Regions from separate parts of the Homo sapiens genome. Here regions 2, 3 and 4 are each linked to region 1. The links come from fine-mapping of genetic effects on gene expression. A gene starts in region 1. Each other region holds a variant in brackets. All regions are shown on one strand. Distances are between the middles of the regions.

Region 1 (8,103 bases):
TACAAAAGCCTCGGGATCCTGAAAAGGGGAGGAGACAGAGAATGGTATTTCTAAACTTTCCCAGGATTGGGGCTGCCCTTTCTACAGCGTAGAAATTTGGGGTTACCTGAATGACCTACAATTTCACCTTCTCTTCTGACCTTTTTCCCAATTTTATAGTCCATCTCATTCTCAAAAATCATTTGAGACTTTGGGAGGTTGAGGCAGAAGGATCGCTTGAGCTGAGGTGTTTGAGATCATCTTGGGCAACATGGTGAAACCCCATCTATATTTTTTATTTAAAATATTTAAAAAAGTTTATTTGAAGAAATCATTTGAGGTGACTGCTGTTGTTTCCTCAGGCCTATGTCTATATCAAGGACTTTTAATAAAGAAGGGGCATCCTAGCTGTAAGATCTCGGATAAGTGCCTTTCAATCTACTTGAGCTTCAATTTCCTTATCTGTAAAGTGGAAGTAATAATAACCAAACTGGAGTGTTTTGATTTTAAAACCCCGTAATATACAGGGAGCATTTAGTCCAATGCTTGCTATACAGCAGGTATACAATAAATGAAAGCTGTTTTCACCAGAAGATCCAGAGAATGGCAAAGTTCTGAGCGGACTTTCAGGAAAAAAAGAAGGCAAGAGAAGAACTAAGCGTTTCTGGGAACTATCTTTTTTTTTTTTTTTTTTTTTTTTGAGACACAGCCTCACTCTGTCGCTGAGGCTGGAGTGCAGTGGTGTGGTGCAATCTCAGCTCACTGCAACCTCTGCCTCCTGGGTTCAAGCGATTCTCCTGCCTCGGTCTCCCGAGTAGCTAGGATTACAGGCATGCACCACTGTGCCCGACTAATTTTTGTATTTTTAGTAGAGACAGGGTTTCGACATGTGGCCAGGCTGGTCTCGAGCACCTGACCTCTGGTGATCCGCCCGCCTCGGCCTCCCAAAGTGCTGGGATTACAGGCATGAGCCACCATGCCTGGCCCCTGGGTTTCTGGGAACTATCTGATAGGGAATCTAGAACTCTGCACAAGGGACAGTGGCTATGGAGAACTCTGAAATTTCTCAAATGTTTGTCATTCTTCTGCACAGTCTTACTTTACTTAGATCTACAGTTTAATCTTTTAAATAAAAAAGGCCCAAATACTTATTTAGGGAATCCCATTTTGGAAGAAAGGGAAAGAAACTAAGCAACAGGGGAAAATGGCTTAGGAGAGAACAGCTGCAATGTTTGGAGGCCAACAGGAATGAAAACAGGGACGTGAGAACAGGAGAAACCTGGAGGCCTCCTTTTGAGGATTCAGACCTGAGAAGGCTGTTCCTCATTCCTTCCCTCCTGCTTGCAGAGGTGTGGCCCACAGCGCAAGCATCACAAACCACACTAGTTCTGACAATGCTCTGTTCAGACTCTAGGTAGTCCCATGACCCCTACCTGGTGTAACCTGACCCAGACAGCCAGTTACCAGGATGTGTAAAGGACACCTGATTCTTTCTGTGACAGTGTGGTTACCCTAAACCTTGTAAGACATGACTACAAAGAGAATCCCAGTCTCTGGCTTCAGTCCATACGAGAACAAGTAAAGCCGCCTGAATCTGGGTCAGAAAGTAAAGTTGCCCTTCTGGAGCACGGAGAGAATTACTGCTTGTCTGACAATCTGTATCCACAAGGCAGTGGTTCTCAAGCCTGGCCTGGGCAGCAGAGTCACCTGGAGAGCTTTGAAAAAAACAGAAGCTCCAAGCCATCCTAGACCTACTAAGTACCTCAGGAGTGGGGCCTAGGAATACATACGGTAGTTTCTAAAAGCACTACAGGTCAAGCTGGGTGTGGTGGTACACACCTGCAATCCCTGCTACTCAGGAGGCTGAGGTGGGAGGATCCCTTGAGCCCAGGAGTTCAAGACCAGCCTGGGCAACATGGCATGATCTCATCTCAAAATAAATAAATAAATAAATAAATATATATATAAAATAAAAGCTGTCTGATATTTTATGTGGGCAAATACAAAAAATAAAAGCACTACAAATGGTGACTGTGCTGTGAAGCCAAAGTTGAATATAATGCTTTGTGGAAGTATCTTTTTTTTTTTTTTTTTGAGAGGAAGTCTTGCTCTGTTACCCAGGCTAAAGTTCAATGGCGCGATCTCGGCTCACTGCAACCTCTGCCTCCCAGTTCAGGCAATTCTCCTGCCTCAGCCTCCCGAGTAGCTGGAACTACAGGCTTGCACCCCCATGCCCAGCTAATTTTTGTATTTTTAGTAGAGACAGGGTTTCGCCATGATCTGCCCATGTTAGCCTCCCAAAGTGCAGGGATTACAGGCATGAGCCATCGCGCCCGGTTGGAAGTATCATGTTTTGAACTAGAGGGAAATTACTGAAGTTCCACAGAAGGACATAATAGAAGCTTTTTTTTTTCCTAAGTGGCATCTGCAAACAGACCGGTCTGTTCCAGCTTCTCTGGCTCTCCAAGAGGAGGGAATCAATTAGGAGGCAACTGCATTCAGCTGAACTTTCCCAGGCCTTCCTCATCACCACAGCAGAACTTAATAAAAGGTTCACTTTTTTTGGAAATTTAGATTTAGATTGAACTAACATTTTAGGAGCACCTGTTTTGTGGCAGGTCCTGCTGCAGACACAAACTACAAGTCCGTGGGAGAGACACTACATGGTTCTCATTTGGGGTACATTCCTGGAAATGGAGGAGTGTTCATCAGAGCTGTACCAGTTCCTTACAACGCAGTCCTTAGTGAGATGTCTTCCCTGACACAATGCTTTATTACCTACGATCAACATACAATTTGGAGTTTACTGACTGATGTGTCTTCTTGACATTCTTTTCGTTTCTATAATGCGGGATGTGGCTAGGCTGATTGGATGACCTTGAATTTATCTGAGGCTTATCCTCACCACCTGTCAAAACATCTAGCTTGATTTTTTTTTTTTTTTGAGACAGAGTCTCGCTCTGTTGCCCAGGCTGGAGTGCAGTGGCGCAATCTCGACTCACTGCAACCTCCGCCTCCTGGGTTCAAGCGGTTCTCCTGCCTCAGCCTCCTGAGTAGCAGGGATTACAGGTGCCCACCACCAAGCCCGGCTAATTTTTTTGTATTTTTAGTAGAGATGGGGTTTCGCCACGTTGGCCAGGCTGGTCTAGAACTCGTGACCTCAGGTGATCCACCCGCCTCAGTCTCCCTAATGCTGGGATTACAGGCGTGAGCCACCGTGCCCAGCTCTAGCCTGAATTTTAACCATTAAAGTAATACCACATTTGCCCATCCTTTGGAAAATAATCAAACTATTTGCTGGGAATCAAAGAGTTAAAAAGAAGGTACTGCACAAGAGTATGCAGGTGTTTTTTGGTGGAGAGCACTACATAGATCTTAGGTGATTACCACTATGAACTTTGTCTGTACTGTCTCCATTTTTTAAGATGATGAAACCGAGGCTCAGAGAACCTCAGTAACTTGCCAAATGCAAAGCTAGGACAAGGATTTGACCCCAAGTATTTTGATTCCCAGACCTGTGCTTTTGCTTTAGCTCCACTTCAGTGGCCCCAATAGCCCTTCTGAATGGCTATTTATGTGCAGATTTACAATGGTTGGCAACTGACATACTATTTTTATCAACCACGTGCAAAAAGCATGAATTAAGATCCAACAGAATTTTAGGAGGAGGACAAAGTCATAAAAGTAACGAGAAGTTGAATGACTTCTCTAAGACCAAACAGCTACTAAGACGTTGAGCCTGTATTTGACCAAATATAGATACTTGGGTCTGTATGGCACCAAAGCAGCTCTTTTTAACCAAGCCAAGATGCATATACGGTGCAGTGGAGAGAAACATGAGTTTGGAATCAGAAGCCATGGATTCCAGTCTCCTGTTCCAATCACTTATTAGCGGTATCACTCTGGGCAAGTCCCTTGCCCTCTGGAAACAATGATCTATGACCTACTCTTTACTGACACATGAAGATCCAAATGGATGTAAAAGTATTCTGAAAACTTCTTCCAAATAATAATAATAATAGTAAGAACTCACGCAGGTCAGTCAGACATAGGTTGGAATTCTGACCCTGTCACTTACTGGCTGTGTGACCTTGGACGAGTGATTTTACCTCTTCTGCCTCAGTTTTCATCTGCAAAATGGGGATAAATCAATAACTACCCCAAAACATTGTTGTGACAATTAAATGAGAGCATCCATTTAAACAAGGGATTGCCTGACACAATATTCGATCAATAAACATCAGCCATTAATACCCTGATAATTGCCTCTCGGGTCTTCAGCTACCTTCAAGTACGGTCTTTCTGACCTACCAAAAACGCCCTGGGCTTCGGCTTCGGTTTGCTATTCTCTGCCCCCTTCCTCGGACCCTGTCCCTCTCTTCCCAGTCCGCAGCTCGTGTTAAAGCCTTCCAGAAACCCCAGTCCCCTTCCCCGGCTTCGGCGCCGTCTCTTACTCGACGACCTTGGCTGGATCCCCGTGGTGCCCATAGACAAGCGCCCGGACCCGGGCAGGCTCGGCGGATGCGGAGTAGGAGGAGGCGGCAGGTCCGTGACAGCCAGAAGCTGGGAGCAGCCCCCGCCACTGCCGGGCGGGGGTTCGCACCCGCCACAGGGTACTGCAGACCCACATGCTCGCTCCAACCAACACAGAGCCTGACGCCCCGGCTACGTCATCTTCCAGCGACCGCGCGCCTGCGCCCCGCCCCTGCCCCGCCGGGTGACCACTCCCCCTTGGTCCCTTTGAAGGGCGTTTCCTTCCTTCGCTGCCCAAGTGGTGGCGCCTGGCTAGACTGCGTGTGGGCCCCGGAGGGATCCGGGGGTGCGGAGCTTGCGAGGCCGCCAAAGCTGTTGTCTCAACAAGGAGAGTCTGGGGCTAGTCCAAAGTCGTGTCTACAGCCTGCAGTTTGGTGTTTGATTTGGAGGAAATATTTACTCTCCCTGGCCTCAGTTTACCCTTCACATAATATATTGAGTGCTCACCGAGCCAGGCTCTTTAAGGTATTATCTCATTTAATCACCACTACCATGTAACGGCATAGGGAGGCAAAGCTTACTTCCCTACACTGAGGAGAGTACACGAAAGCTGCTGTGGAGGCAGGAGTATGGGGCTTGGAGTTAGAAAACTTAGGTTCAAATCCTAGCCCTGCCACTTCCTAGCTTGGCCACCTTGGGCAGGTGAAACTCTGAATTTTTCTCATCGGTACAATGGGGATAATATGCCTCCTTCCGGATTGTTGTGAGGATTGGATGAAATAATAGAGGAATGCTATTGTGGGTGGGAGAACGCATTGTAAAAAACTCTGTTCAGATGTAAGACAGGAATCACAAGGAGAAGGGTCCTCTCTCAAAATGCTCACAGTGTAGAAAGGGATTAAGTGGAACACTGGAAATGCCTGTAAAAAGGTGTAGCCCTATGAAGGATCTAGTCTGATTTTTGGTGTAGGGAAGACATGAACATTACTAAAACCCCAGATCGAGCTGTGGCTCGTGCCAGAGTGCAATGCTGTAGTCTGAAGAGAAGTGCTCTGGGATGGGGTGGGATGGGGTGGGGGCTCTTGGAGGAGGTGCTGTTAGAGCCAGCCCTGTGATTCAAAATCTTCTGTGTGCATAAAAATAATCCGAGGTCCCATCTTAGACCTACTGAATTAGAATCTTGCGGATGGGGGTTCCAGGAATCTACATCCTTACAAGCTCCCAAGAATATTCTGATGCAGGTGTCCCAGGAAACAGGTTTTAAGATACTGAGCCAGGGCTTTGAAGGATAAGGAAGAGTTCCTTTCCTGGATTTTATTGACTTGAAGCTTGCCATCTCCAAGCCTTTCCTCTGAGGAAGAGAGCACAGCAAAGTACTGTGAGCTAGATTTGGACAAACCTGGCTTTATGTCCTAGCTCTGCCATTTTCCAGCCATTTGATTTCGGACAAGTCACCAGGCCTCTCTGTGTCTTCACTTTCTTACTCTTAAAATGGAAGGAATACTAGTTATCTGTTTCAAGATTGTTGTGAGGGTCAAGTGAGATATTATCCACTTGAAGCATTTAGTACAATGCTTGGCACATGGAAGCATTTGATAAATATTATCGGGGGTTATTGTGATTAAATGAGAAATATCACACATAAAACCCTCAGACTAGGGTCTGGCTTATAGTATGTGCTCACTAAATGTCTGTACTTGTTTTTATTATTAGAGAAAGTTGGTGTCCCATGGTGGGGGAAAGGCTTGGCCCCACATTTATGTGCCAGCACACACACGATGACCAGTCCTGCTTACCCTTTTCCCCAGTGACACATAGGCTTACTTGAACTGGGAAGTACAACGTAACCTTCTGTTGTAAGACTCCCTAGGTGACATTGAGATGTCGACATTCTCTTCTTCACCAAATTGGCTCCTCTGAATTTCTGGGGAGCCCAGTCAGGAAGCCTGAAGAATCATCCAGCAAGTCCTCCTCCTTGGGGCTGGACTTTAGCCTCCTGTGCATCCCAATAGCCCTCACTTTTAGTCTAGGCCATCTGGGTTCTTGCAGGGGCATAGTTTGAGAACTACTGACTGAGGGGTTCAAGTCCAATTTCCTGGACTTGCATTCAAGATTCTTTGCACTCTGACTCCCACACTGCATTTCCAGCTTCATCTTCTCCTGTTGGACCGTGCATAGCCTGTGATCCAGCTGCATCTGATACCCGTCTTCCCCAGTGTGTCTTGTGCCTTTATTCAGGCCACTCCTTCTGCCTGAAATGCTGTTCCCTGCCTCGGAAACTCCAGGTTCAGATGTCATTTCTTTGATGTTTCAAAACTCCCTAGGTCATCTGCTGCTGCCTTTGTGTTTTCCCTGGAGCTGTGTTATGGCCTTTAGTACATCGTCTCTTATTTATTCCCCTCCAGGCAAGACTGGAGCCATGTTTGGTTTATCTCCATAACACCAGCACCCGATATGAGCCTGGCACAGGGTAGGTGTCATAAATATTCCATGAGTTGCAGGTAATTGAATTTCCTCATGGCCTAGAACGGTCTGTGGTGCCATCTCCTTTTCCCTAGATTTGGGCTGGTCACTCCAGGCCAGGAATTTCCTTCTTCCTTCTTCTCTCAAGGATTATAGAAGTCTGTGGTCTTTTTTTTTTTTTTTTTTTTTTTTTGAGACAGAGTTTTGCTCGTTGCCCAGGCTGGAGTGCAATGGCGCGATCTTGGCTCACTGCAACCTCCGCCTCCCAGGTTCAAGCAATTCTCCTGCCTCAGCCTCCTGAGTAGCTGGGATTACAGGTGCCCGCAACTACGTCTGGCTAATTTTTGTATTTTTTTTTTTTTTAGTAGAGACAGGGTTTCACCATGTTAGTCAGGCTGGTCTCAAACTCCTGACCTCGCCTCTGCCTCCCAAAATGCTGGGATTACAGGTGTGAACCACTGTGCCCGGCTGAAGTTTGTGGTCTTTTAAAAGTAAAGCAGAAAGTCCTCTTCTCATCTGTCTACCTGTTGCTTGTGTTCTCTTTCTCCCTCCATTATAGTCTCTGCCATCTTCCCCTGCACAAAGGGCAAAGGGATGTGGAATCAGTCAGATCTGGGTTCAAATCTAGGGCCCGCCGTCTATTTACTAGCTGTGTCACCTTAGGCAAGTGTCATATGCTCTCTGAACCTCAGTTTCCACACCCGTAAAATGGGATCACTGGTAAAACTCCTATTTTGAGGCTCTCTCAAGAGCCCTCTGCAAACAGCACCCTTGGTTGTTTCTTCTGTTCACTGGTTTTCTCTCCTTGAGTTTCCTTTTCTGGGTGGGCCTCTCTGGCTCCTCTCTGCTCCAGCGTCTCTGTATCTTAGTTTCTTCCCTAAGGTTTCCCCTTGGTTTCTTCTTGCTTCTGCCTCCCTCTCCCTATTTAATTATCTGTGTCTAATTCTTGCCTGCTGTGTCTTTTGGTCCCTTTCCTAACTCAGTGTGGAGCTCATCAGCTCTCACAAGAGAGGAGACCAAGAGCCCAGGAACTCTCAACCCAGCGATACCTCCTCCAGCCCCAGGGCAGCTTCAAGGTGTGTCCATCTCAGCATGAAGCCAGCTAGGAGGGGCAGGGCACAGGGAGGGCCTACATATACCTTGAACTCCTACGCTTTGTTCAGTGTCACTGCCCAGTGGTCAGACCCA
Region 2 (8,103 bases), 110 kb after region 1:
GGGAGGGCTGCTGCTATCACCAGCGGTGTGCTCTACTGAGTGTCCTGCACACCACCGAATGCAAGAAGAAGCCAAGTACTCTGGAATCAGAGTGTCCAACATCCTGCCAGTGCCATCTATTGACAAAATCAACACCATGCCAACTTGCAAGAGAAAACGTTCTAGTTTCACAAGCAGGCCATGAGGGGTGGATTTGGAACTCAGAAGCAATAAATGGCAACTGGTACAGGCTCCTCTCATTATTATTCTTAATCACCCACTTGGAGAATGTTTGCTTCTTGTCTTTGCAAATTTGAACTCTGCTGGCTTGGATATCTTTGTTCCTAAGGCAAGGATGGGGGGAATCCTAGAGGACACAACGTTGGTTCCAATGAATGGAAGGATGAGACTGCCTCTAGCCATTTGGGGTTCTTACGTCACCTATCAAACAGGCCGATAAAAGGGTTACTCTTTTGGATGGAATGATTGATCCTGGTTTCCACGGAAAAATTGGATTGCTTCTACACGATGGGGACAGGAGGGCTATGTCTGGAACTAAGGGGATTCTGCGGGTGTGCCTCTTAGTACTTCCAAGCCCAACTGTACAGGTTAATGGAGAACTTCATCAATCCAAAAAAGGCAGGATAATTGAGGGCTCCTATCATTCAAGAATGAAGTTTTGACTTTCTCTTCCTGGTAAAAAAAAAACCCCAACTAGCTGAGGTTCTGGTTGAGGGTAGGGAAGATTCGGAATGGGTAGTGGAAGAAGGAAATCATAGATATAAATTATGGCCTTGTGGTCAGTTACAGAAATGAGGACTAGAGTAGCTTTGCATATTTTCTCATTTATTGTTATGTGTATATATTTATGACTATGTTAATTGTTTCCTTCTCCTTCTTCCCGTTGGTATTATTCTTTTTCTTTTTTTTTTTTTTTGAGACAGAGTCTTGCTCTGTCACCCAGGCTGGAGTGCAGTGGCGCGATCTAGGCTCACTGCAACCTCCGCCTCCTGGGTTCAAGTGATTCTCCTGCCTCAGCCTCCCAAGTAGCTGGGACTACAGGAGTGTGCCACCACGCCGGGCTAATTTTTTGTATTTTTAGTAGAGACGGGGTTTCACTGTGTTAGCCAGGATGGTCTCGATCTCCTGACCTCGTGATCCACCCGCCTTGGCCTCCCAAAGTGCTGGGATTACAGGTGTGAGACACTGTGCCTGGCCTATTTTTCTTTCCAACTATTATTTCAGGTTCAGGGGTTACATGTGCAGGTTTGTTACATGGGTAAATTATGCGTCGCAGGGATTTGGTATACAGATTATTTTGTCACCCAGGTAATAAGCATGGTACCCAATAGGTAGTTTTTTGATCCTTACCCTCCTCCCAGCCTCCACCCTCAAGCAGGCCTGGGTGTCTGTTGTTCCCTTCTTTGTGTTCATGTGTTCTCCCCATTGTTATTTATATACCAGTTATTGGAGGTTAACTTTACCATATGGCCTTTAGGAAACAGAATATTCAGTGTGACTGTGCTGATTTTGAGGAGTTGTTCATATAGCCAGCAAGGGGTGAATGATGTTGGAACTACGTGTCTCCTTATTTTGAGGCAAGGGTGGGAACTTCCTTATGTGTACAAGGGATAACTGCATCTCCTTAGGTGGAAACACAGAGTTGCCTTGTTGTGAAGGGAAGTTTAAAAGTGTGTAGTAGATATATATGGAAGCTGATTCGTCAAAGGCAAGGACTGTGATGGTTCCACCAATTGTTTCTCAAGTCCACCCTTCTGTGTCCTGCTTTGTGTTACTGGAGCTGGACCCTATAAACATTTGTTTGCAGGCTGGTGCAATGTTAATCTCTGTCAATAGAGGGCAGTGGAGGGGTATTGAAAGGCTATAGAGATGGATGGCATTTCTTTGTTTTTTTTTTTTTTGTTTTGTTTTGTTTTTTGAGATGGAGTCTCTCTCTGTTGCCCAGGCTGGAGTGCAGTGGCGTGATCTTGGCTTACTGTAACCTCTGCCTCTCAGGTTCAAGCAATTCTCCTGTCTCAGCCTCCCCAGTAGCTGGGACCACAGGCACACACCACCATGCCCAGCTAAGTTTGGTATTTTTAGTAGAGATGGGGTTTCACCATATTGGTCAGGCTGGTCTTGAGCTCCTGACCTCAGGTGATCCACCCACCTCGGCCTCCCAAAGTGCTGGGATTACAGGTGTGAGCCACCGCGCCCAGCCTCATGAACAGTTCTTTACATTACATTTTCCATGTTTAGGTTACTGGTGTGGTCTCTGTCTTCTGAATGGTCTCTATTCACATACTCTCCACCCTGGCATCTGGCCTCCTTGCTGTCTCCATCTTAATCAGATTTGAGATGAAGATTTGGCCTCCCCCTTGCTCTCCTCTTGGCCTTTCTCTTCACCTCTGCCTCCTTCAGATCCGTCTTGGAAAGTCCCAGTTTCTGTGTGAACATGGTGAAGATGAGGATGTGGCATCTTCCCAGCATGCCTTGCAGAAAGGCCAAAGCCTAGAGCTGGGAATCAGGATGCCTGGGTTCTAGGCCCAGCTCAGCTTCTAACCTATGTCCTTTACAGGTGGGGAAAGTGAGGAGAAGTTGTGTCAGATGCCTACTTCCATCCAAGCTGCTCTAATGACCTGCAAAGGCTTTCTCCTCACCTCAATTTCCATGATGTTCTGTGATCCTCATGACAACCCTTCTTCTTACGGCTTGGCTGGATAGATCTTGTCATTATTATTCCACTTACATTATTATTCCAGTTGTATTATCGTTATTCTGATTAATACAGTGCTTCTTAACTGGGGGCAATTTTGCTTCCCAGGGACCATTTGGTTATCACAATGTGGTTTTGCTACTGACATCTAGTGGGTAGAGGCCAGCGATGCTGCTAAATATCCTACAATACATGGGACAGCCCCCGCCTTGGCCCCTCAACAAGAAATTATCTGGCCTGCAATGTCAGTAGTGCTGAGGATGAGAAGTCCTGAATTAATAGGTATAGAAAGAGGGGTCTTACAAGGGGAGGTGGCTTGCCCAGGGTCACACAGAAAGTGAGCAGCAGAGCTTGGATGAGAGCCTAGGCACTGAAACCCCTAGCCCTGGTCTTTTCAACCCTTCCCCATTCTTCTCCCAGGTCCAAGGGTAGGAAGGCAATGGAAAGCCAGTGAAACCTTCCCCGAGGAATTCTGTGCCTGCAGGTGGCTGACATTCTCCTCTCGCCTCCCTGCCTTACCAATCCCCAGCCACTTGCCAAGGCAGCCATCTGCTTTCTCAACTCCTGTTCTGAGCTGCTGAGAAGCTGCTGAGAAAACTGCACTTAGTGAGTACTGGCAACATCGCCAAGGGGTGATTGCCAACGTCAGCGGGCTCCAGCATCACCCATCGTTTCTGCCACCTCCCTGTCATCTGCTCCAACCGCCCTTCCCTTCAAGGACTATTCAGATCCTCCACCTTTCTTAAGTTCTCCCCTAGTCCCACCATCAGCTTTTTCACTCCCAGTAGTGACCTGACTTTCTCAAATACTCCCTTCTCTCCTGAACCTGTTCTCAGCCCGCTTGGGAAGAGGACTCTTAACTATCTCAGGACAGACTCTCTCCTCTGGTTGAGGGCCAGTCCGTTTCCACCTTCCGGACTGATTCCTTTCTGCCTTTGCGGGACATTGTCCCTATAGCGTTCTCTCTCTCTGTCCCCACTTCCCCCGGCATTTGTCAGCACCCCTGACTTCCCTGCATAAAGCCTGCTCAATCTCCCCCATACTTAATTTTAAAATAAATTCCTTTCTTGAAATCTTC[T/C]GGCCCCTCGAGCCACTTTCATTTCTTCCCCTCCCATCCACATACTGTTTGTACTGCCCAGATGAGCCACTCACCCTGCTTGCTCCAGCTGCAAACCTCCTACTCACCTTCAAACCCAGCTCAGATGTCAGCTTTCCTAAGATGCTGTAACAGATGTGGTTGGTGTCCCCCTCCCCTTGGCACTCTGAGTTCTGCAGTTACAGACAGTTCTGAGCATGCTGACAGCTTCCCACCTCAAATGCCTGCATCTCTTTCTCTCTCTGGCACCTGGAGAACTTGCTTGTCTGTGTGGCAGGTGTCAGCTAGGAGTACAGGGGACAGGAGGAGTTAATGCCTCGAGAGGTGGTGAACAGTGCCCACTACCCCTTGAGTCATGAGAGTGGGCTCTGGGGGCATCTTCCACGCAGGCCTCAGAGGCTCCCCAGCAGGACTGAGCCCCGAAGCTGCCGTCGCTGTAACCCACTGCCTAGTGCTTAGTTCATGCTTCACTGACTTTTCTCTTTTCCCCACTTAGTCGTTCCATTTCCACACTTTATCTGAGAGGGTTCCCCTCTCAGATAAACTATCAGCACTGGGGCCCTTGACTCAGGGCAAGCTGTTGAAATGACCATTTCCTGGGGTTGCTCACATTGGAAGCAACAGGTGGTTCATCCATGTGCTTCAAAAAGAGCACCCTTTGGGGCAGCCACCCTGAGACACACCCCTGTCCCCCTAACCCTGGAGGGAGTTAACTGCTCCCTCCTCCTGTTCCCTGATGCCTGTTATTGTTTCTTGACACAGAGTTTCTGTCTCTTGTTCCAGACTGTGAGTCCCTGAGATAAAAGCAAGCTCTTCCCTACCTCTGTGTCCCCTTAACCTGGCATGTCACCCTGGCACATCAGTGGCCAAGAAATGTTTACTGAGTGAGTGAGAAAAGGAATGGATGAAGGGGATAGGAGTCTCCAGGGCCACCCATGGTGGGTGACCAGCCCCGCGGAGAGAACTGTCCCATGGATGTGGTCCTCTCAACCCCGCCTTCTCCTCTCCGCCAAGGGGGCCTATCTCTGCCCACCCCTGCCTGGCCCAGAACCCCTCACCCTGACCCCCGTCCTACCTGCTATGATGCAGTCTGCCTGGTGCAGGCCAGGAAAAGTCCCCAGACAGGGGAGCGGGCCCCTCGGTAGGAGATTCCGGCTCTGGCTAAATAAAGGTCACAGGAACCCAGTGAAATGCTGTTATAATGCGACATAATTCAGTGCTGCCTTCCAGCAGATGTCGCTTTGGAGGGATGGATTTGTCCCAGCTGGACTCTGGGGTGCTTTCTGAAGCACACGGAAGAACCACCTGCTGCTTCTGATGTGAGCAGCCCCAGGAAATGGTAATTTTGACAAATCAACGTATTCAAGCCAAACGCATGGACCCAGTTTCCAGCAGGAGGAATTACAATCCTCGCTGAGGAAGTGAAACAGCTGCTGTGGAGCCAAGCGGCTGTACAGGCTACGTCCAGCCCCGAAGCCCCAGGGGAACAGGATGCTCCTAGCACAGATCGCCAGGGAGTCAAACTCAGCACCCTGGTCCCATAAAGGACCATTTTACAGATGAGAAAACAGGCCTGTGGCAAACTGAGGCAAAGGAGCGCTTGCCCAAGGTCACACACACTGAGCCAGTGGCAGACCTGGGGCCCTGAGCTGAATCCAGACAGCTCTGGCCCCACCCTCTCCCACGGCTCTGAGGAGCTGGCAGGTGAGACTCGTGCTGAAATAAAAACTAAAACAACCGACATCGTGACCAACTCACAGGTTGGGCCTGCCCTTTTGTTACAGATGCTGATCTGGGAATGAGAGACTCTGGGATCTGATGCTGGTTCTGCCCCTACCTTCCTGTGTGACCTGAGTTTCCCCATTCAAGGGGCATAATGCTCCACTTCCCAGGATGATGTGAGGATCACGTGAGGTCCAGGAGAAACTCCTTGGCACACTGTGTGAAAGTAAACCTGGGAACAGTGTTATCGTCACCCACACACCTGCAGTGATGGGATGCTGAGGACAGGGATGGTCCTTCCTTGAGCTGCTAGAAGTGAAGGAGAAACCAACGTGTCTTTTCCCAGGCACACAGCTCTGAGCTAGGGGAGGGGCCTCAGGGTGGGTTGTAAGTCTGGAGGCCTTGGCCATCCTTCCTCCCATAATGTAGGGGTGTCTCTGAAGCCATATTCCCCTTTCTGTCCCAGCAGGTGACATGGAATCTCAGCTCTTAAACATCCTGGCTACAAAGGTTTGGCAGTGCTGGGTTGGGGGCAAATATCTGGGGAAGGGAAAGAGAGAAAGAAGAGGCTTACAGAGAAATGGGGAGGAAGAAGAGGAGGGTGAGAAGAAAAGGAGGAGGTGGGAGAGGATGAGGAGGAAAAGAAAGACAGAAGGAGACAGTGGAACATTTGGAGGAGGACTGTTTCCATTCTATGGTACAAAATGCAAGCAGAAATTGTGGGCTCTAGAATCAGAAAAATCTAAAATCAAAGGCTGGCTCCACCGCTCAGTATTTGGGGGACTTTGGGCTAATCATTCAACTGTTCTAAACTTCAGTTTTCACATCTGTAAAATGGGGATAAGAACGGTGCCCATTTCTTAGAGATAATCTTGGCAAAGCATTCAGTACTATGCCTGGCCAGGAGCAAGTCCTCAATATGCAGTAGCTAGAGTGGCAGCAGAAGTGGGAAAAGGAGCTGTAAATCTACAAATGTGTGTGTTCTGGGAGAGTCTGGAAAACCCATCCCACTGGAAGGTAAGACGGCTTGTTCATGCAGAGGAGCAGATGGATTTGTCCAAGTTGAGAGAAGTCTGAAGAGGCACAGAAGCCCAAATCACACATGCAAAGGAATGCAGTTAACAAATTTTACTGTGAGGACAACAGTTTATGTATTAACGGTGGCTAAACTGATAAATATATAAGAAGCTGAGGCCGGGTGCAGTGGCTCACACCTGTAATCCCAGCACTTTGGGAGGCCGAGGTGGGTGGATCACCTGAGATCAGGAGTTCAAGACCAGCCTGGCCAACATGGTGAAACCCCATCTCTACTAAAAATACAAAAATTAGCCAGGCGTGGTGGTGGGCACCTGTAATTCCAGCTACTCAGGAGGCTGAGGCAGGAGAATCACTTGAACCTGGGAAGCAGAGGTTGCAGTGAACCGAGATCACACCATTGGACTCCAGCCTGAGGGATAGAGCGAGACTCTGTCTCAAAAAAAAAAAAAAAAAAAAAAAGCTGAAGGCCAATTTCATGTCAATAGATCACTCAGGAAGAAATGTACATGGAGAACCCATGAACAAATGACTGTCATGTCTCCTGTTAGGGAGACAGAGAGGGCGATCCACAGTGAGGGATCACTGACTGTGGGGCAGCCACACTGGGGCACGCACTGGGGTCCACAGCAAATGAGGTGCAGCAGCTGAAACAACACGCCCTCAGTCCCACAATGGGTGAGTAGTGGAGCTTGGACTCCAACCCACCTCTGTCTGCAGCCAAAGCTCTGAATTGGCTAACACCATGTCTGAAGGCTGGATGCTCCCAGGCCTGTAAGGCCCAGCAAGACTGGGGAACAGAGCAGCCCTAGACGGATGGGTATAGACACTTGGGGTGCGGGCCCCTTCCCTTTAGTCATGATGGGCCAGACAAGAAGTTTGGCTAGAGACCATGTCTGCAAGCCCAGGTTGGCTGTGCTGAGCTGCAGGCTTTCCATCTCCCTGGAACTGTGAAATCCTTGCAGGCTTTCCCCTCAGCCCCCACCAAGATAGGCACCCCCATCCCTGCACTTGGAGACTGGAGCTTTCTCTTCTTAGCAGATGCTACCTGGGTGGTTGTGACTACAGGGCTGTGGGTGGAGATGAGACAACTCAGGATGTACACATTTTTGAATTGGGATAAAATACCAGCTAAATATTTGTCCTAGATTTTTCCTTCTGAGGAATTGAATTATGAGATGCCAGTTGTTTTAATATGAGCTATGCATTATCACACACAGAGTCTATTACATGCATAGTAAGCCATACACATGCATACAGAAGCAACTACACACACAGATACACACCCACACACACAAAGAGGAGGACCTAGCAACTATTTTCCTAAGGGACCATTTTCAGGGCTCACTTCCAGAACATTGAATGGTTCTTAGGAAGCAGAGATAGTCTCCAAACTCAAGAAAATATTTTTCCTAGGACCTGTAAATGCTACACATGATAATTGTCCTAATCTTGTTCCTCTAGGTCCTCTACTATCCAGCCCTCCCTTGCCCTGAGGATTATTACTTCCCTAGCCCTTGGAGTACTCAGCTTCCTGGGGTCTCCCCGAGCCACC
Region 3 (8,103 bases), 270 kb before region 1:
AGAATAATGAATTGGATATTTAAGCAAAGCTGTCCAATATTTAAGTAAATAAAGATGTCTAGGTATAGGGATTAATTCTGACTGTAAGGATTACAGAAATAAAATTCATGGAAAACATGGCGTGTGGGCAGGGCTTTGAAGGAGGGTTAGAATTTCAGCAGGTGGAGATGCAGGCTTGGGGTATTATAAAGAAGGCAGATGCAGGGAAGTGCAGGCTGTTTTAGGAAGCAGCAAGTAGTTCTAGGTGGGGCTGGTGGGAGAAGAGACTAGTGAGGGCAGATCACAGCCAAGCTGGGGTGCTATGGGAAAGGAGTTTGGATTTTATACCGTAGCTACTACGGAGCCTTTAAAAGTTTGATCTTTTTTTTTTTTTTTTTTTTTTTGAGACGGAGTCTCGCTCTGTTGCCAGGCTGGAGTGCAATGGTGCAATATTGGCTCACTACAACCTCTGCCTCCTGCGTTCAAGCGATTCTCCTGCCTCAGCCTCCAAAGTAGCTGGGATTACGGGCCTGTGCCACTACGCCTGGCTAATTTTTCTATTTTTAGTAGAGATGGGTTTTCGCCATGTTGGCTAGGCTGGTCTCAAACTTCTGACCTCAAGTAGTCCACCCGCCTCGGCCTCCTAAAATACTGGGATTACAGGCATGAGTCACCGCACCCAGCCAAAAGTTTGATCTTTCAATAAATATTTGTTAACTGATGAATAAAAGAGTGATAGGATTAAATCTTTGTTTGGAAGAGAAAACATTTATAGCAGGAGGGACTGGAAATAGGTTATTTATAGTCGAGTGAATTAGAGCAGAAACAGTAAAAATAGAAACATATAGTTAAATGCAGAGGTAGAGGTAGACTTGACAGGATTTGGCAAGTGATTGGGTTTAACTAATTTTTAACAAAAAGGGGAATAGAAGAATTTAAGGTTTTGAATTTGGGAAAATGGGAGCTATGTTCTTCCTTGCTCTCTTTTTTCTTTAGTTTTCTTTTCTTTTTTTTTTGTATTTTTAGTGGAGACATGGTTTTCACCACGTTTGCCAAGCTGGTTTTTGAACTCTTGGCCTCAAGTGATCTGCCTGCCTTGACCTCCCTCCCAAAGTGCTGGGATTACAGGCGTGAGCCCCTTCTTGAGGCCCTTTCTTTTTTTTTCTTTTCTTTTTTTTTTTTTTTTGAGACAGGATCTCACTCTGTTTCCCAGGCTGGAGTGCCGTGACTCAATCACTGCCCACTGTAGCCTCGACCTCCTGGCTCAAGTAGTTAGTCTTCCTGCCTCAGCCTCCCAGAAGCGGAGACTACAGGTGCATGCCACTACACCTGGCTAATTTTTTAAATTTTTATTTTTGGTAGAGGTGGGGCGTCTCATCATGTTACCCAGGCTGGTCTTGAACTCCTGGGCTCAAGTGATCCACCCACCTTGGCCTCCCAAAGTGTTGGGATTACAGGTGTGAGTCACTATATCCAGTCCTTCCTTGCTTTCTTGAATAAAGCATTTGGAATTGAGTCATCCTTTTATTAGGGAGACTGCATTATTATGAATAAGAACCTTGAGCTATATAGGATTTATTACCCCTACAATAAATGGTCAAGTTTGCTATAACTGGCCAGGCATAGTGGCTCATGCCTGTAATCCCAGCACTTTGGGAGGCTGAGGTGGGAGGATCACTTGAGCGCAGGAGTTTGAGACCAGTCGGGCAATGTAGTGAGACCTCGTCTCTACAAAAAAAAAAAAAAAAAAACTTAAAAAAAAAATCAGCTTAGTGTGGTGATTTGCTCCTGTAGAGGCTGTGGTAGGAGGATCATTTGAGCCTGAGAGGTTGACGCTGAAGTGAGCTGAGATTGTGCCACCGCACTCCAGCCTGGGCGACAGAGATCCTGTCGCAAAAAAATTTAAAAAAAGAAGGCCAGGCCAGGCGCAATGGCTCACGCCTGTAATCCTAACACTTTGGGAGGCCGAGGCGGGTGGATCACCTGAGGTGAGGAGTTCAAGACCAGCCTGGCCAACATGGTGAAACTCCATCTCTACTAAAAATACAAAAAATTAGCCAGGCATGGTGGCAGACACCTGTACTCCCAGCTACTCGGGAGCCTGAGGCAGGAAAATCACTTGAACTCTGGAGGCGGAGGTTGCAGTGAGCCGAGATAGTGCCACTGCACTCCAGCCTGGGCAACAAGAGCAAAACCCTGTCTCAAAAAAAAAAAAAAAAAAAAAGATGGCTATCACTTTGGATTTTGATGTGTCTCTTTCTTTCTTTTAGGCTGTTTCTTTACTCATTGTATGTATCTAGAAGAATCATAACCCCTTCTACTTTAAATTCATCTGTTACATTTGACAAACAAACTTGTTAGAATTAGGCAAAAAACAAAGGTAAAGGGACTCTGAATGAGGGCCAAAAGGGGCTTTCCTATATAATAAATATGTGTTTTATAGTGCTTTTTAATTCCTATGGCATTTGCAGTTTTAAGAAAAATCACCTTACATGAATAAGGTGTTAAGTGCTCTCCGAGAGTGTCCTGGTTTATTACGTTGTACTTTAATAAGAATTAATAAGTGGTTGAGTGATAGAGTTGTTGAATAAAGGATAAAGTAGCACACTAAAGCTTAAGATCATTGATGTAATGAAAGTAAACCAGGCTGGGAATCTGAACACCCGGTTTATAGTCCCAGTCCTGCCACTGTAGGACATTGAATAGGTGATGTTACTCATCTGAAATTGTATCTATTTTGATAACATGGGGATAATATCTCTTCTCTCTACTTGAACAATGAGGTAACACTGATGACCAAGTCATGTCCTTCCATGTGTGTGGGAATATGTAATACATTTCTCAGGAATACATATATTAACACTATGATTCTCATACCTTCACAAAAATAAAAATGAAAAATTCAACTTTATGCCAATGCAAATTACTATCATCACTCAAGTTTGATTCTTCCTTTCCAGATCCAGGAGTGGAATAAATCTTTACAGTACAGTTTAAATCTTTAGAGGAAACTCCCATCAATTTTCTCTTCTTTTGTGAGGAGAGCAAACTGGTTCCTCCTCTATATAGAAACCCATCATGGGTTTATAGCTTTTTTGGCAATAGTAATTTTAGTGTATTTGCCGTTAAATTTTAAGTTGGTTTTTGCTCTTATTCCTAAATTGATTTCTCTAGTTGATATTGGATTTTTTTTTTAATGGAGATACTAGGGTGGTGCAAAAGTAATTGCTTTTACTTTTTTTTTTTGAGATGGAGTCTCGCCCTTGTTGCCCAGGCTGGAGTGCAGTGGCGCTATCTTGGCTCACTACAACCTCCGCCTCCCAGGTTCAAGCGATTCTCCTGCCTCAGGCCCCTGAGTAGCTGGGATTACAGGGGCCCGCCATCATGCCCGGCTAATTTTTGTACTTTTAGTAGAGACGGGGTTTCACCACGTTGGCCAGGCTGATCTTGAACTCTTGACCTCAGGTGATCCGCCTGCCTCAGCCTCCCAAAATGCTGGGATTATTACAGACGTGAGCCACCGCTCCCGGCCATAATTGCTATTACTTTTAATGGCAAAAACCGCAGTTACTTTTGCATCAACCTATATAATTCATATACCATAAATTCTACACTGTACACTAAAATGTGTAACTTGGGGTTTTTAGTATATTCAAAAGTTGTGCCACTATCACTACTATCTTATTCCAGCACATTTTTGTCACCCCAGCAAGAAACTCTGTACCCATTAGCAGTCATTCCCCATTCTGGTTTTCCCCAGCCCCTGCAACTCTAATCTACTTTCTGTCTCTGGATTTGACTAGGTTAGAACTTTCTGTCTCTGGATTTGACTAGGTTAGAACTTTCTGTCTCTGGATTTGACTAGGTTAGAACTTTCTGTCTTTGGATTTGACTGGGTTAGAACTCAGGTCTGTCAGAATCCAAACCCCATTGCCCCTCAGTTTAGGTCCCCATAACTTTTTGTTTATGTAGCTGCTGGAGCATTTATGGCTCGCAGTATGTGTTGAACTGTCAGTAGTTGGGTGTGGGGTTCTCTCTCACCACAGATTTTTATGGTTTTTTTAATAAGGTAAAATTAAATGAGTGTTTGTAATAATAATAAAAATAAAGATATTCTCTATTCCTTTGTGTAACATTTTAGACATTTATATTTTTTCTTTTAATGGATGACCATGGGATTTTTAGATATCTTTGCATTCTTAGTGCCTTGTGCTTGGTGAGTGACAGTAGTCTTAATTGAACTAAATTGTAATTACATTCATTACTCTTAACGAAACCAGCTCCCATTAGGATGAACAGTTTTTCTAAAATAAAACAAGTTTGTTTTTTTATATATACATATAAAAAGCAATAACAAAAACAAACAAATGAAAATAATCCACCATCAATGCTTCTATTTATTTTGAGTGCCAATTTTGTTAGCATGAATGGGAAACAACTGACTTTTGAGAAATGCCATTGGATCTGGAAAGCCTGATGAGGGCTACAAGCTACATTCAGTAAAATCAGAATCGTGTGTGTGTGTGTGTGTGTGTGTGTGTGTGTGTGTGTCTGTGTGTGATTTTAGCCTTGTATGACCAACTAAATAAAATGTAAATCTGAAAGAATCATTTCAAGTTTCTGGTAACA[A/G]TGGAGAAATAACATGGAATTGAGAGTTAAGAAGCTTAGGTTTGGGTTTTGGCTCTGCCTCTGATGAGCAGTAACTCAGCCTAATTTTATCTCATAGTCCCTCTGGAGGAGAATGGGTCAGGAGATTCTTAACCTATTGTTGCAAAATTTTATTTTGGAACATTTCTGAGGAAAGGGTCTGTGGCTTTCATTAGATTCTCAGATCGTTCATGGCAACAAAAAGAACCACTTGATCAGATGATTTATCAGTCTCATTGAGGTTTAAGATTTTGTGATGCTTCATTATAACCCTGGTTTGACCAGCTTATATACCCAGGGTTACACCGTGAGTTTACACTCAACATTGTCTTTGAAGACTCAGAATGACTTTTAGCACATTTAAACTATTTTGGATATCCCATAGACGCGTCAACTTTTCTAAAAACAGAACAGTCATCCTTCAGTTAGTGCTTTTTTCTGACTCTGAAGCTGGTGCTATAATCCACTCTGTCATACTGTCTTTCTTCAGTACTTCTTGAATCCTTCTCCTTTTCTTCCATCTCAACAAACCTTGATTCAGGCTCTCATGATCTTTCATCAAACTTGTTAGGAGAGCTTCCTATTAGTCTATTTCTATTTCCTGTATCCGTTCTCTCTCACACACACATTAACACATATTTTACTATGGTACTTCCATATTTAACATCGTCTAATGGCAGGCTTGGTGGGGTGGCTTATGCCTGTAATCCCAGCACTTTGGGAGGTTGAGGCGGGCGATCACTTTAGGTCAGGAATTTGAGACCACTGTGGCCTGTCCAACATGGTGAAATCCCGTCTCTACTAAAAATACAAAAATTAGCTGGATGTGGTGGTGCGCCTGTAGTCCCAGCTACTCAGGAGGCTGAGGCAGGAGAATTGCTTGAGCCTGGGAGGCGGAGGTTGCAGTGAGCTGAGATCATGCCACTGCACTCCAGCCTGTCAATAGAGTGAGACTCTGTCTAAAAAAAAAAAATTAGCTGGGTGTGGTGGTGCACGCTTGTAGTTCCAGCTACTTGGGAGGCTGAGGCAGGAGAATCACTTGAACCCAGGAGGCGGAGGTTGCAGTGAGCCAAGATCGTGCCACTGCACTCCAGCCTGGGCAACAGAGTGAGAGTGAGACTCTGTCTCAAATAAATAAATAAATAAATAAAATAAATAAATAAATAAAATTTTCTAATGGCTTCCTGTTTTACAGAGAATAAGGTATAAATTCTTGACCATTGCAAAAGCAGGCTTTCCCTAATCTACCCTTGCCTGGTCTCAACCCAGTCTCAACCTCCATTGTTTTCTGTCATCCTATATTTTATACTCCAGCTATAGTGAACTTTGTGCTGCTTGCCATTCGGGTGCACATGCTTTTTCTAGATGCTTATCCAGTTGATCATGCCCTCTCCTCCTTTCGTCACCTAACTTAGTCCTACTTATCCTTTAAAGCTTAGCTCAGATTGTATATCAAAGGCCTTTTCTCTGACTCTGCTCTGCTTATTCTCTGCATATATTACTATATAATTGCTTGCTTTTGCCTGATTTTTAAAATAGACTGTGTACTCTTTGAGGGTAGAAGCCACATCTTATTTTTTTGCAACCTTGGCTCTTATCTTGGTGCCTAAAATATTATATGTTCAGTGAACATTTATGATGAATTCAGTAATTATTTAATTATTGCATGGGGTTTTTTGAATTAGTGAATAGGTTTTTAAATATTGCTTGTAGTTTTGGTAAAACTTTAATTATCATCTTCCTCAAAGGAGAAAAAAGAAAAATATTTAGTTGTTTAATTATGGGGAAAAAACCTTTTTTTGATCTTGTAATTCTCATAGGCCTCCAATGAGAATTTTATTTTATTGCTTTAATGTTTTCATAGAACCTAGTAACCCAGGAAAGCATTTTATAATTTTTTTTTTAGAACTTTTTTGAAACTGATTTCCTGTTGGGGTTTAGTATAGGGTATTATTACTTAAGAGAATAAGGTGTAAGTCTGGAGACTGTATCAAAGAGAAAGAAGATGAATGAATCAGGTATAGACACAGAATGAGGTAACAGGGTTTTTGAGTCTCTTGTTTGGCTCATGATCTTTTCAACACCATTGAAACACACACAACCTCATTTTTTTTTCAGAGCACATATAAATGAAGAATGACCTGGAGGTTAGGTGGGAATGGGTAGGACTGCCTCTCTCTGGACTCAGATTCCTGGGAGCTGACCCAGAACTGAATGCCCTTAGGGATTTCAAACTCATTACCATTTGTAGTGATGCACTTCACTCTGATCTCCTTTCAGTGTTACCTTTGTTAGAGACTACACTAGAAAGGAAAATACTTGGAATAAACTTTAGCGTTTTCAAAGTTTTGTACTGCCACATGGGATGACTATTAATTCCTTTTGGCTGGCACACAATAATTTAGCAAATTATTATTTTGTAAGCCGGGCGTGGTGGCTCATGCCTGTAACCCCAGCACTGTGGGAGGCTGAGACGGGTGGATCACCTGAGGTCAGGAGTTAGAAACCAGCCTGGCCAACATGACGAAACCTCATCTCTACTAAAAATACAAAAATTAGCCAGGCATGGTGGCGGGAGCCTGTAATTCCAGCTACTTGGGAGGCTGAGGCAGGAGAATCACTTGAACTTGGGAGCCGGAGGTTGCTGAGATGAGCTGAGATCGCGCCTTTGCATTCCAGCCTGGGCAACAAGAGTGAAACTCCGTCTCAAAAAAAAAAAAAGAAAAAATTATTTTGTAATTAAGTTACAGTTAGCATATCTACATCTGAAGTATCTTAGTACCTTGGATATGTAAGTAAGCATTTTGTATTCCTTCTTGGGTATATCTAGATTCTGTTGATTTCTTTACCCTTCACCAGATGACTCGTTCACATCTTTTATTATGAGGAAAGTAGTTTCTGGCCTTTGGACTTATCAAAATCAGTCTTTCTTTTGTTCATTTATTTGTTCAACTCATATTTTTTGGTGCAACATTCTGGGCAACAGGGATGAAACAATGAACAAAACAAGCACAATCCTTTGCTCCAATGGAGTTTACATTCTAGTGGGGGTAGACAAACAATAAACCAAATCAAGTAAAAACCATATAGTATGTCATTAAAGAGTAGTTAAGTGCTACAGAGAAAAATAAAGCAGGAGAATGAAGTGCAGCTGGGCCTCCAATTTTAGGTAGGGTGACCAAGGAAAGCCTCACTGGAGGTGGTATTTGAGTAAAAACCCAAAGGAAGCAGGCCTCGTGGCATCTGGGAGGTAGGTAGTCTTCCAGGCAGAAGAAACCACAAATCCTAAGGTCCTGGCAAATAGCATGCTTACCATGTTTAATAAACAACGAGGAGACCCAGGTGGCTGGAACAGGACAGGCAATTGCAAGGACTTTGCCCTTTATTCTGAATGGCAGGAAATGTCTTTGGAGGGTTTCTGGTCAGTGGATGATCTAACTGTACTTTTAGTAGGATCATGCTACCTCCTTTACTGAT
Region 4 (8,103 bases), 99 kb before region 1:
ATGGTACCACTGCACTCCAGCCTGGGTGACAGAGCGGACTCTGTCTAAAAAGGAAAAAAAAAAAAAAAGCTTGTATAATAGAAAGATGACCAAATAAGGAAACAAATGAGTTCTTCAAAGGAGACTTAGTGTCCAGGAAAGGATTCTATGGACCCTGAGAGGATTTAGAGAAGAGGTATATAGGCTTGAACCCAGGAGGCGGAGGTTGCAGTGAGCCGAGATGGCACCACTGCACTCCAGCCTGGGTGACAAAGTGAGACTCGGTCTCAAAAAAAAAAAAAAAATTTAAGAAAGGGTTCACATGTTGAGTGCCTGGCACAAAGTGGGTTCCAGCAAACACCTCTCCCTCTTCTGATCATGACGTTTCAGGTACAGAGGGTAGTGTTTGGGGTGGGTAGAAACCTTCCCTGGGGTCACTGGGGTGGCAGAGGAGGGAAGGGCCCCCTTTCCCAGATGTCCTGTTTAATTCTCTTGAGAGCTCCAGGAGGTCAGTGCTATGCCCAGTTCACATATGTGGTTTGGAAGAGGCAAAGCGACCTGCCCACAGGCACAGCCAGGCTGATCAGTGCCCACTTCTCTTTGGAGGGACCCTCCCCAGGACTGCTTGGTTAGGCCCTGTGAATGTGCAGATGTGTGGGCTGCTAGTGGCCTCAATATTGGGACACTGATTGCTCCCATGAGGCCAGGACCCTTCCTGAATCTGCCCTGGCATCTGTGTGACCTGGACTCCACTTCTGAACTTGGAAGGCCTGGATGAGATGTCCCCTGGGGACCAGGGGATGAACATTTCTCCCCTAACCTTCTCTGTGGAAACAGGAAACCTGATTCAGTGACCCCGAAGCCCCTGCCAACCTGAGGCTCCGTGTCCTCTCCAGAAGCCACCTCGCAGAAGGAATGGCTGTTGCCTCCTGCATGTCCGTCCCTCTCCGGGCCATGGAACAGTGGGGCCTGCAAATTCATTTTCTCTCATCCCCACTTTAGGAACATCCCATCTGGGCTGCCTGGGCTCCAGTCGTTGTCTCAGGGTGGCTGGAAGGGCTCAGAGGACACAGCCTGCTGCTAAGGTGGTCTCTGGACACTGTGCCTTACGGCTCCTATCCAGAGACACCACAGCCTCAACTAAGAATTTGGAGCCCAGCTTCAAAGGGGAGAGCATAGCCTGGTTTTGCTGTTGCTGCTGAGTCGTCCGCTGGGTGCTGGGCAAGTCCCAGCCCTTCTTGCCACCCCTGCCTCTGTCATGAGCCCTTTGCAGGTAGGACTGGCTTGCAATTCAGGGAGAGATGATTGGAAAGTAGAATCCAGAATCCCGGTCTCAATGCCCCATTATATAAGGGCAGAATCAATACCCAGAGAGGGGCAATGACTTGCCCAGGGTGACCCAGCTAAGGAATGGTGGAGTTGGGCTTCAAGCCCCATGGTCACAAAGTCCTATTTGGGACTCAGGATCTTAGAGGGCAATGGTCCTGAAATGTGAACCCCAAATCCATCTCCCACTGCATAAAACCTCTGACTTGGGTGAATCTGGGCTCCTGGAGAAGCCTGAGGGAGAATGAGCTCCCCATTTCCATGGCTTTCTGTAGCCCAGAGAAGACGCAGAGGCAGAGCCTGGGTAAAGCTGGGAAGGTCAAGGAGATGAGACCCTCCTGTGGGACAGGGTGATGCCAGCCTCCTGCCTGAGTCCTTTGGTGGAGGGATAACAGTAGGAACAGCACCATCTCACCGAGCTGCCCTGGCTACCAGGACCTTTGTACCCATCACTTCAGAGTACAAGACACTCCTGTGAGCCTGGCACAGCACTCACCTGTATCACACATGTGGAAACAGCTTCACCAGGTCCGGCCCTGTCTGTGGTCACACAGCTGGTCAGTGGCAGAGCCAAGGTCAGAAGCAGGTGTGGTGGGGTTGTTGTTTCGTTTTGGGTTTTTTTGAAATGGAGTCTCGCTCTGTTACCCAGGCTGGAGTGCAGCTCACTGCGCTCACGATCTCAGCTCACTGCAACCTCCGCCTCTCAGGTTCAAGCGATTCCCGTCACAGCCTCCTGAGTAGCTGGGATTACAGGCATGGGCCACCATGCCCAGCTATTTCTGTATTTTTAGTAGAGACAGGGTTTCACCGTGTTGGTCAGGCTGGTCTCGAACTCCTGACCTCAGGTGATCCACCCACCTCAGCCTCCCAAAATGCTGGGATTACAGGTGTGAGCCACCACACCTGGTGTAGTTTTTGTTGTTGTTGTTTTGAGATGGAATTTCACTCGTTGCCCAGGCTGGAGTGCAATGGCGTGATCTCGGCTCACTGCAACCTCCACCTCCTGATTTCAAGCATTCTCCTACCTCAGCCTCCCGAGTAGCTGGAATTACAGGCATGTGCCACCACGCCCAGGTAATTTTTGCATTTTTAGCAGAGACAGGGTTTCACCATGTTGGCCAGGCTAGTCTCGATCTCCTGACCTCATGTGATCCACCCACCTTGGCCTCCCAAAGTGCTGGGATTACAGGTGTGAGCCACCGCACCTGGTCCAGACTACTTGTTTGTTTTTGAGATGGAGTTTTGCTCTTGTTGCCTATACTGGAGTGCGATGGCACTGTCTTGGCTCACTGAAACCTCCTCCTCCCAGGTTTGAGCAATTCTCCTGCCTCAGCCTCCCGAAGTGCTGGGATCTCCCCTCCTCGGCCTCCCAAAGTGCTGGAATTACAGGCATAAGCCACCACGCCCGGATGCCAGTTTACTTCTTTATGCCTCTGTTTCCTCCTCTATGGAGGGCTATTAGGATCAAACCCCTCAGCTCTGGTAGCAGCAAACACAGCACAGTTGAGGGATGGCTTTTCTGGCCTTCAGCTGGTGCTCGCTTCTCCCCCCTGTAGAGTGTGAGACTGAGGCTACTGATTGCATCTCTTCAGCCACATCCTCTGGGCTGGCTGTTAGGGACCAGAAAGGAAGCAGCCCTGGGCCCTATCCAGATGCCTCAGGGGTTGGGGTGAAGACTCATCCACCAAAAGTGGAAGAAGCCACAGCTGACTGCTTCAGGAGGCATGCCCCCATAACCTCAGGCAGACGCTTCACTTCTCTGGCCTGTTTCTGCCTCAAACTGTGTCCGGAATTGGTGGGTTCTTGGTCTCACTGACTTCAAGAATGAAGCCGTGGACCCTCGTGGTGAGTGTTACAGTTCTTAAAGGCGGCGTGTCCGGAGTTTTTTCCTTCTGATGTTCGGATGTGTTCGGAGTTTCTTCCTTCTGGTGGGGTTCGTGGTCTTCCCGGCTCAGGAGTGAAGCTGCAAACCTTCGTGGTGAGTGTTACAGCTCTTAAGGCGGCGCGTCTAGAGTTGTTCGCTCCTCCTGGTGGGTTGGTGGTCTCGCTGGCTTTAGGAGTGAAGCTGCAGACCTTCCCCGTGAGTGTTACAGCTCATAAAGGCAGTGTGGACCCAAAGAGTGAGCAGCAGCAAGATTTACTGCAAAGAGCAAAAGAACAAATTTTCCACAATATGTATGGAGACCCCACAGGATTGCTATGGAGACCCCAGAGGATTGCCACTGCTGGCTCAGGCAGCCTGCTTTTATCCTCTTATCTGGCCCCACCCACATCCTGCTGATTGGTCCATTTTACAGAGTGCCCAGCAGTCTGTTTTGACAGGGCGCTGATTGGTGCGTTTACAATCCCTGAGCTAGACACAAAGGTTCTCCACGTCCCCACCAGATTAGCTAGATGCAGAGTGTGGACACAAAGGTTCTCCAAGTTCCCACTAGAGTAGCTAGATACAGAGTGTCCATTGGTGCATTCACAAACCCTGAGCTAGACACAGGGTGCTGATTG[G/T]TGTGTTTACAAACCTTGAGCTAGATACAGAGTGCCGATTGGTGTATTTACAATCCCTTAGCTAGACATAAAGGTTCTCCAAGTCCCCACCAGACTCAGGAGCCCAGCTGGCTTCACCCAGTGGATCCCACACCGGGGCCACAGGTTGAGCTGCCTGCCAGTCCCGTGCCCTGTGCCCGCACTCCTCAGCCCTTGGGTGGTCAATGGGACTGGGCGCCGTGGAGCAGGGGGCGGCGCTCGTCGGGGAGGCTAGGGCCGCACAGGAGCCCACAGAGGGAGGGGGGATGCTCAGGCATGGCGGGCTGCAGGTCCCGAGCCCTGCCCGGAGGGAAGGCAGCTAAGGCCCGGCGAGAAATTGAGCACAGCAGCTGCTGGCCCAGGTGCTAAGCCCCTCACTGCCCAGAGCCAGCGGGGCCTGCCGAGCTCACGCCCACCCGGAACTCGCGCTGGCCGGCAAGCACCGCGCGCAGCCCGGGTTCCCGCCCGCGCCTCTCCCTCCACACCTCCCCGCAAGCTGAGGGAGCCGGCTCCGGCCTTGGCCAGCCCAGAAAGGGGCTCCCACAGTGCAGCGGCGGGCTGAAGGGCTCCTCAAGTGCCGCCAAAGTGGGAGCCCAGGCAGAGGAGGCGCCCAGAGCGAGCGAGGGCTGTGAGGACTGCCAGCATGCTGTCACCTCTCAAGACTACCTGCCAATTACCCATCTCAGAGGGTCGTCAGAGATCGCTGAGCCCTGCCAGAGGTGCCGGATAAACCTTAGCTGCCTTTATTGTTATTGTTATTATTTCTGCTTCTATTAACTGAGCTCTGATGTTCTACCTCATATCTGTGGCCTTTTTCAAATTCTTTTTTTTTTTTTTTAAGACAGGGTCTTGCTCTGTCACCCAGGCTGGAGTGCAGTGGTGCAATCACAGCTCACTGCTGCCTCAACCTCCTGGGCTCAAGCGATTCTCTGACATCAGTCAGAGTAGCTAAGACCTCAGCCATGTACCACCACACCCAGCTAACTTTTGTATTTTTTTCTAGAGACAGGATCTCACCATGTTGCCCAAACTCCTGGCCTCCAGCGATCCTCCCACCTCAGTCTCCCAGAGTGTTGGAATTACAGATGTGAGCCACCGCTCCCAGCTTTTTCAAATTATTGAATGTTCCAGTGGACTCAGCCTGGATCAGACATCTATCTCCAGTCCAATCAGCTAAGGACTAGAGGGAGGGAGAGAACAGGGTCAGGAAGCCTGGACAGGCTGGACACGTGGATTCTCTCAGAAGCCTGGGAGGTGGTGATGGGGGTCCCTGCAAGTGACTGGCAGCCTAGGGAGTGCGCAGGCTGGACCTTGGGAGTTGGGTGATCCAAGGGCTTGAAGTAGGGCTGCTGGCTGGAAGTGGGACTGTGGGCACTCACCTGCCACCCGTGTGTCCAGCAGAAGAGTGAGGCTGGAGGGTCCTATGAAGATCTGCTTCTCACTTCTCCCTTTGGGAGGGCTTATAGGTCACAGGTCACAGCAAGGCACATGGGGTAGGAGAAGCCTCCATTGAGGAAATTACATATATGCCCTCCCCCGCACCACCGCTGCCACTGTAAATTAAGAAAAAAGCACTGTTGTGTTGGAAGGTGTGCCTTAGAGGGGGAGCAGGGCAACAGCCAGCCCTGGCTGACACCAAGAAATGTGTGTTTGGCTGGGCATGGTGGCTCACACCTGTACTCCCAGCACTTTGGAAGGCTGAGGCGGGTAGATAGTTTGAGGCCACACGTTCAAGACCAGCGTGGGCAACATAGCAAAGCCCTGTCTCTGAAACATAAAGAAAGAAAATGAAAGAAAAAGAAAGAAAGGGAGGGAGGGAGGGAGGGAGGGGCCGGGCCCAGTGGCTCATGGCTGTAATCCCAACACTTCGAGAGGCCAAGGCGGGTGGATCACCTGAGGTCAGGAGTTTGAGACTAGCCTGGCCAACATGGTGAAACCCTGTCTCTACTAAAAATTAAAAAAAAAATTAGCCGGGCATGATGGCGCATGCCTGTAGTGCCAGCTACTCGGGAGGCTGAGGCAGGAGAATTGCCAGAACCGGAAAGCAGAGGTTGCAGTAAGCCAAGATCGTGCCAGTGCACTCCAGCCTGGGCAACAGAGGGACTCCGTCTCAAAAAAAAAAAAAAAAAAAGAAAAGAAAAAGAAAAGAAAGAAAAGAAAAAAAAAAGTAAAGAAAGAAAGGAGGGAGGGAGGAAGGGAAGGAAGAAAGGAAGGAGAAAGAAAGAAGAAAAGAAAGAAAAGGAAGGAAGGAAGAAAGAAAGAGAAAGGCCGGGCGCAGTGGCTTATGCCTGTAATCCCAGCACTTTGGGAGGCCGAGGCGGTTGGATCACGAGGTCAGGAGTTCGAGACCAGCCTGGGCAACATGGTGAAACCCCGTCTCTACTAAAATACAAAAAATTAGCCGGGCGTGGTGGCGGGTGCCTGTAGTCCCAGCTACTCGGGAGGCTGAGGCAGAAGAATCGCTTGAACCCAGGAGGCGGAGGTTGCAGTGAGCCGAGATTGTGCCACTGCACTCCAGCCTGGGTGACAGAGCAAGACTCTGTCTCAAAAAAAAAAAAAGAAAAAGAAAAAAAAAAGAAAGAGAAAGGAGAGGAGAAGGAAAGAAGAAAGGAAGGAAGGAAGGAAGGAAAAAAGGAAGGAGAAAGAAAAAGGGAAAGAAAGAAGAAAGAGAAGAGGAGGAAGAAGGGAGGGAGGGAGGGAGGGAAACTGCGTGCACCGTGCAACACTGTGATTGGAGTGACTTGTTACTCCAGTGTAACCCACTGCCAACAGCCTGGTACTCGAGGCCGTAGTAAGCTCTTGTTAAATAGTTGGAAATGGGATGATTGCCAGTTACAGAACAATGGGCCTGGCTCATGCTGCCAGAGTAGTTTGAGAGCGGGTTCTTGCTAGAGCAAGAGAGAGGGGAGTTAGTCTTCGCTTGCAGCTGGAGCAGTAGCTGTCCCGAGTGGGCAGGGAGGCCCTGGCCCTCTCCTTCCTGTTGCTCTGCCCTCCCTCGGGTGTGGCACTCTCCCTGTTTGGTGGTTGAAGACACTTGCTGTTCCCTCTCCCGAGTCTGCAGACCATTGCAAGGCACCGAATGCACACCCAGAACGCTCATCCAGCACGCCCTTTTTCTCAAGTAGGGTGCGTGGCCATGTGGGAGACAACTCGGAGTCTTTGCCACAGACACCACGGGGACACGGCTCTTCCATTTGGTGACAAATCGCACTGCTGGTGAGATACTGAGCTGCGCGTCGCTGGGAAGGAAAGCAGAGGCTGGACCTCTGGGATTCCCGGTGAGAATCCTGCAGGGCAGGCCCCAGGTGGAGGGGGCGACCCCGGTCTCCAGGGCCGGGGGAGGCAGCGAGGCCCAAGGACAGGCGGCGGAGGCGGGAGGCGGCGAATGGGCTCCTCCCGAGGCCCGGACCAACCCCTGGCCGTGAGGCCGCGCCCCGCCGCGTTCAGCGAAGGGAAGCAGGCACCCCGCCCGGCTCTCCGCTGCCTCCACACTCGGGGACCCTGGGCGCTCACGTGTTCCCCTCTGGGCCTCAGGATTCAAGGATGCGCCCTCTTGCAAACAGTCCGTGGCCTGCGACAGAAAGAAAACCCCTGGGAGCGGTCGGGGTGGGGACCCACAAAACGCTGTGGCTAAACCGCATGGCGCCAAGCCCGATCGGAGCGTGGCGTGGGAATCGAGTCAAATTTACCCTGCTAGGTGCGGCTCCAACAAGGTCCCGGGTACTCCTCTAACGCCCAGTGAGGGCAGCACTGCCTTTGTCCCTGCCCCACGGACAGGACACGGAGGCTCCGACATACAAAAGGACTTAACCCGAGGGGAAATGTTAGAGCCGGGCTCCAACCCAGGACTTCCTGAGTCTAAGCCCAATCTGGCCCTAGACGAGCTGCCACGGTGGGCTGCACCCTCCACGGCAGGAGCTTGCCTGGCCTTGCTTCTTAGGTGAGTGTCCAGCCCAGGCCTTTAGAAGTTTGCTTCTTTATCAGGTCACATGTTTTTGGACATTTGTGATCACTGCTTTGCCATTGCAAAGGGGGACAAGAGGCCCAGGGAGCCCCCTCATTTACCAGCCCCTTCCTGGGAGGCTCAGAAAGCAGCCAGCTGCCCCCACATGCACGGTGGCCTGTGCATCAGTGTAGCTTGGCGGGTCATTTTACAGAGGAGGCGACCAAGGAGGTGGCAGGCTGCAGTCGGGGTCCCCAAGGTGATACCTCCATCTCCAGTGTCAAGGCTCTGAGGAGGGAGCTGGGGACCTCAGGAGGCAGTGGCAGTGGAGGAGC

Evidence for each region.
Region 2: its variant is fine-mapped to the expression of MECR in skeletal muscle (GTEx, PIP 0.95).
Region 3: its variant is fine-mapped to the expression of MECR in prefrontal cortex (GTEx, PIP 0.98).
Region 4: its variant is fine-mapped to the expression of MECR in lung (TOPMed, PIP above 0.99). The same link has a PIP of 0.9 or more in adrenal gland, aorta, blood mononuclear cells, esophagus mucosa, esophagus muscle and fibroblasts.

Annotation. Positions count from the first base shown.
Region 1 is chr1:29,226,298-29,234,400 of GRCh38, forward strand. It overlaps MECR (mitochondrial trans-2-enoyl-CoA reductase), which reads right to left and starts at 4,637. Exons shown (of 10, transcript NM_016011.5): 1 at 4,434-4,637. The coding sequence starts at 4,609. RefSeq lists enhancers at 4,013-4,513, 4,514-5,014, 4,539-4,648.
Region 2 is chr1:29,339,266-29,347,368 of GRCh38, forward strand. The region is part of intron 1 of LINC01756 (long intergenic non-protein coding RNA 1756); the gene reads right to left. Among named protein-coding and RNA genes, the nearest start is that of LINC01756, 6.8 kb to the right of the region's middle. The variant T/C (reference allele first, on the strand shown) is at 3,774.
Region 3 is chr1:28,958,853-28,966,955 of GRCh38, forward strand. All of the region lies in intron 1 of EPB41 (erythrocyte membrane protein band 4.1), which reads left to right. Among named protein-coding and RNA genes, the nearest start is that of EPB41, 48 kb to the left of the region's middle. RefSeq lists enhancers at 6,641-7,171, 7,172-7,701. The variant A/G (reference allele first, on the strand shown) is at 4,609.
Region 4 is chr1:29,127,159-29,135,261 of GRCh38, forward strand. No RefSeq gene overlaps it. Among named protein-coding and RNA genes, the nearest start is that of TMEM200B, 7.3 kb to the left of the region's middle. The variant G/T (reference allele first, on the strand shown) is at 3,808.